2 separate regions of the Homo sapiens genome follow, and region 1 is linked to region 2. Evidence: fine-mapped QTL for protein levels in blood plasma. A gene starts in region 2. The other region holds a variant in brackets. All regions are shown on one strand. Distances are from middle to middle.

What was found. PIP is the chance, under the fine-mapping model, that this variant and not a neighbour inherited with it causes the effect. Protein levels are from antibody-based Olink assays in UK Biobank. Linkage for the fine-mapping came from a reference panel and not from the study's own genotypes, which makes the PIPs less certain.
Region 1: its variant is fine-mapped to the plasma level of the C7 protein (UK Biobank, PIP above 0.99).

What each region holds. Positions count from the first base shown.
Region 1 is chr5:40,971,048-40,973,547 of GRCh38, reverse strand. C7 (complement C7) reads right to left here. Exons shown (of 18, transcript NM_000587.4): 15 at 954-1,145. Among named protein-coding and RNA genes, the nearest start is that of C7, 63 kb to the right of the region's middle. The variant T/C (reference allele first, on the strand shown) is at 1,439.
Region 2 is chr5:40,907,571-40,910,527 of GRCh38, reverse strand. It overlaps C7 (complement C7), which reads right to left and starts at 1,031. Exons shown (of 18, transcript NM_000587.4): 1 at 912-1,031. The coding sequence starts at 917.

The sequences.
Region 1 (2,500 bases), 63 kb before region 2:
CACATCACAGCCCATATCTACCATCAGTATCTGAGTGCTCCATACCCTGTCGCATGGAGAACTTAGTTAGAAACATCTAATTCACCTCACACCATCACCTGTGAAATCTAGTACTTCATCCTCACTATTAAAAATAAATTTCAGCGTTTAATTAAAAATCACATACTAGAGAGATAATATCACATAAAATAGTATGCAAGTGAGTTTTTCTTCATTCTCATTTTTGTTACAAATACAATATTTTCCATTTATTTAAAAAATGTAAACAAAGAATAAATAAGGGGTTATTGTCAAACAAATCTATCTCATCTAAAATTACCTCTAAAAAGAAATAATTTGGCTTTCTAAATCCTTTCTACCTTAGGTTCTTAAAAGACCATTTTAATTTTCTTGGTGTTAAAATACTGGATTTTTGGGTTTCCACATTAAGAACAATTTCATGAATCACAACACTTTTCCTTCAATAATGTCTGCTTTAAAGTGTTAAATGAAAATGCTTTCTAAATTTTCAATTTCAGAAATACTGATAAACTCTTTGAAAGCCCAAAAATGAAACATACAGAACTTTAAATAAATTATGATCTCAACTCTGTACTTATGAAAAATGCAGGGGAAAAAAATCTAGAGGAAACAAACAAACAAACAAAAAACAGATTTTAAAAATCCTTTATTGTCTTGGCACCATAACAGATATAAAGCTAATCTTTCACAAGGATGATTTAAGTTAAAAGTTTCAGAATCACCAGGCTATCCTTGCCTTTCCTTGCTTTCATGAGTCTTTCTGTGCCATGTGAAGAAAATCTGTTACTCAGTCTACAAACTGACCCTATCTTAAGGAGCAAGAATGGAGGGAATGACTCACAGCTATGGTGATACAGTACCATGAAGGTCGCCACAAGGACTCTCACTTGCCTGGGTACAAGTGTCCTTGGATAGACATGGAAGCCACTCACCTTTTTGTACACAGCGGGCATTCTTCATCTCAGGACTCCACTTAAGGCTGGAGCCACAGAGAAATGCTGAAGGACCTTCTAAGGACATGCCACCTGAACAGGAAACAGTCACCTTCTCACCAACTGTGTAGAAAGGTTTTTGGGGGTGACTCTGTATGCCATCCATCAGTACAGGTAGAACACAGGCAATTTCTAAAGATAAAAGAGAGCAAAATATAAGGGTCGTTGCTCTCCTAAACCATCTTTTTAAAAAAGTCTTATGTGATGCAGACACACTTGTTCTGCTTTTTCATATTAGAGGACAAGGAGGAAGACGTAAGTTCACTGTTAGGGTGGACTGAAAGACATGTCACACAGAGCCTGGCACGTAATTGACCCATGAATATCTAAAAACCAAAACAGCTCCCCCTCTCCCACCCCTCCCCTCAAAACAATGTGACAACTTAAAATGAACAACCCCAATAGAGTCCTAATGCCCAGCCTAC[T/C]GTTGAAACCAAACTTTTCACAGCTGTCACTTATTTATGTGCTCTAGTGATGTTCCACCAGGAGAGTTTCATTAACTTTCATCCAGTTGGATATTTTGCCGTCTGAAATTATTAAAACACCACTTTTATTTATTTATTTATTTTTATTTTTTAGGGACAGGGTCTGTCTTGTTGCCCAGGCTGGAGAGCAGTGATTATTCATAGGTCTAATCAGTGTATACTACAGCCTCAAATTCCTGGGCTCAGAAAAGCAATGGGGAAAGGATTTCCTGTTTAATAAATGGTGATGGGAAAACCGGCAAGCCATATGCAGAAAACAGAAACTGGACCCCTTCCTTATACCTTATACAAAAATTAACTCAAGATGGATTAAAGACTTAAATGTAAAACCTAAAACCATAAAAACCCTAGAAGAAAACCTATGCAATACCATTCAGGACATAAGCATGGGCAAAGACTTCATGACTAAAACACCAAAAACAATTGCAACAAAAACCAAAATTGACAAATGGGATCTAATTAAACTAAAGAGCTTCTGCTCAGCAAAAGAAACTATCATCAGAGTAAACAGGCAACCTACAGAATGGGAGACAATGTTTGTAATCTATCTATCTGACAAAGGGCTAATATCCAGAATCTACAGGGAACTTAAACAAATTTACAACAGAAAAACAAGCAACCCCATCAAAAAGTGGGCAAAGGATATGAACAGACATTTCTCAAAAGAAGACATTTATGCAGCCAACAAACATATGAAAAAATGCTCATCATCACTGGTCACCAGAGAAATGCAAATCAAAACCACAATGAGATACCATCTCACGCCAGTTAGAATGGTGATCATTAAAAAGTCTGGAAAGAACAGATGCTGGTGGGGATGTGGAGAAATAGGAACGCTTTTACACTATTGGTAGGAGTGTAAACTAGTTCAATCATTGTGGAAGACGGTATGGCAATTCCTCAAGGATCTAGAACCAGAAATACCATTTGACCCAGCAATCCCGTTACTGGGTATATACCCAAAGGGTTATAAATCATTCTACTGTAAAGACACATGCACAC
Region 2 (2,957 bases):
ATTTAATTTCACAGAAGGCATGGCTTAATCAAGATCCATATCTTGCTCCTCCTCTAACCCCAATAATGAGCGAGCTTGGATTCGGTGCCCCAATGGACAATACAGTGACTATGGAAGCAATCTAGCCACTGACAGATCTGTGAAATTATTCCTACAGTCTTACAATGCAACATTTTTAAAGTTTAAATACCAAAATTTACAATAATAAAATTTGAATAGCAATCTCAACTTATTTTTGCATTCCAGAGATTTAGTCTATGATAGCGATTTCTATCTTTGGTCTTATCTTTTGTTGAATAGCTTTTTGGTTGTGTTTTGTTTTGTTTTTTAATATTTGGCCTTTTTGCATTGGGCCAACATGTATACTTGGTAGACCTTTAGTTTTATTCCATCTACTCATATCTTCTATTCTCACAATGCTGACTCTTTCATCCAGGATTTCAAATTCTCAAGTTCCAAGCCTGCAAATTTGCTTTTCTATTAGCTCTTAGATAAATCGCAGGACCCTACTGCATGGCTCCTAATCCAAACAAGCAAAAAAAAAAAAAAAAAATACACCAGAGGAAAGTTTTTCCCAAGAAATAACAATAGTACTATTGTATTTCTTTATGACTTTATCGGGACTTTCATAAACATTGTCTCCAATTCCTGATTCCCAGACCTCTGGACCTATAATTTCACCACAAGATAAGAAAAAGGAATTCACTTTGGCTGAACTGTTAAATATGTTTAAATAAGGATTTCTAAACATCACCCCCAGGTCTTTTTCTTCTGTATTTTCCTCTGGCCTTCTATTTATTTGATGTCTTTCAGTTAGGTATTACACCTCTTCGTTTAAATTACATTTATATTACCCCCGTTCATTTGAAAAGATAGCTTCATTTACAAAAGTAATGAATTTATTGTCTTACCTTCATGTTTGGGAAAACATTCAGGGCAGAAGAGAGGAGGAAGATTTCCTCTGTAAGGGCCGGGTAAGTTTTCAACAGCAGGAAGAGCCCAGCAGGCTGCCTGCCTCTCTGCCTCTCCCTGCTCTAGATTATCTTGGCACTCATATATAGAGCAAGTGGTCCTGAGATTTAGCTCCTACCCCAACCGGATTCTCCAACGACAGCAAGAGCCTGACCTTGTACTTAATCTGTGCCTTGAAACCAGATGCATCTTATCAATTACACAGCCTTAGCTACAGCCAGCTGGGACTGTTTGGAAGTTATAGATATGTTTCTTAGAAACATATCTATAAATCAGGAAACACAGCAAATGTTCTCAGTTCAATGTTTAAGTGATTTTCAACCAAAGGAGACTCTGTAAGGCAAGGGATGAGCCTCCTTCTTGTTTCAATCTACTAAACTAAGTGGATGTTTTCATGATTCTCTTAAAAGGTGTTATATGCCAGACTTTGAGATTAAATATTTTATGAAAGAAAATATTTAAATGCAGTTCTGTCACTCAAAATCTAAATAGAATGTTCTGGAGTAGAATTTTTCCCCAAAGTACAGCCTAATACAACCCAATAGTCATCCCTTCATGCTTAACTTTCACAGAATAATCAGAAAGAATATCAATTTTTGTAAACATATTTGAGGACATCACTAATTTTCTCAAGAACTTCACTTAATCCTTTGATAATCAGATCACTGTGTTGGAAAGTTCTTCTCAGGGTCATTATCCACATCCATTTTCTCTCCTTTGCTTTTTATCTTGTCTTATTCTACCAGGTCTTTATTTTCCCATAGCTTTGCATTGATTCTAGCAAGTCCCCAACATCACCTTCATACATTTAATAAAATGCTGCTTATTTTGCAAGATTTTAGATTTCCTATTGAAACTGAGCTACAGTTGGCCAGGCGCGGTGGCTCATGCCTGTAATCCCAGCACTTTGGGAGGCCAAGGCGAGCGGACCAAGAGGTCAGGAGTTCGAGACCAGCCTGGACAATACAGTGAAACCCCGTCTCTACTAAAAACACAAAAAAATTAGCCAGGCATGGTAGCATGCACTTGTAGTCCCAGCTACTCAGGAGGCTGAGAGAGAAGAATCACTTGAACCCAGGAGGCGGAGGTTGCAGTGAGCTGAGATCGCACCACTGCACTCCAGCCTGGGAGACAGAGTGAGATTCCATCTCAAAAAAAAAAAAAAAAAAAAAATTGAGCTACAGTTTTATTTGTATTGTTGGACCAAATATTCTAACACTAGCTGCTAGTGCATTATGAGTGAGGTAGAATAAATGTTAAGCGGGAAAGAAAATTTGAGTTAAGAATAATTTTATAAGTAAACATTCCATTAGTGAAGATTTTCTAGCTTTAATGACTTTTTCTTCCTATATCCAAAGCACTGGAATAATAAAGACAACCCCTATCCTCCCCTCATAAATTAATGGTGGTTTCCAGAGACAAAGCTTCCGCATCTTTTGTTCAAAGCTTTAGTGATTTGTGTGGAAGAAATTTTGTCACAGAGACAAAGATCCTGACTCCTGAAAGAAATATTTTTTATTCAGCTCCAACTGCATAAATTCCAGATGCCATAGACTCATCTTAAATTCTCAATATACAATTCCATTTCAGCGGCTCTCTTAGTTTGGGTTCCCCCAGAAGTAGATTCAGAAACAAGAATTCAATTGCAAGTAGTTTGTTTTTGTTTTTGTTTTAAGAGATAATCTTAGAAAGCACCACTGGAAGTGGGAAAGTGAGATTGGGGAGAAAAGAAAGTCAATAAAGGGTGTTTTATCAAGCAAGAGACTCCAGTGGGCAATTTGAGTTCAGTTCTAATGAGGAACTCTGAAAGACATTGCACACGAACTCTGCAATTAAGAGTTAGTCCAGCCAGGTGTGGTGGTTCACACCTGTGATCCCAGCACTTTGGGAGGCTGAGGTGGGTGGATCACTTGAGGTCAGGAGTTCAAGACCAGCCTAGCCATGATGGTGAAGCCCCATCTCTACTAAAAATACAAAAAAAAAAA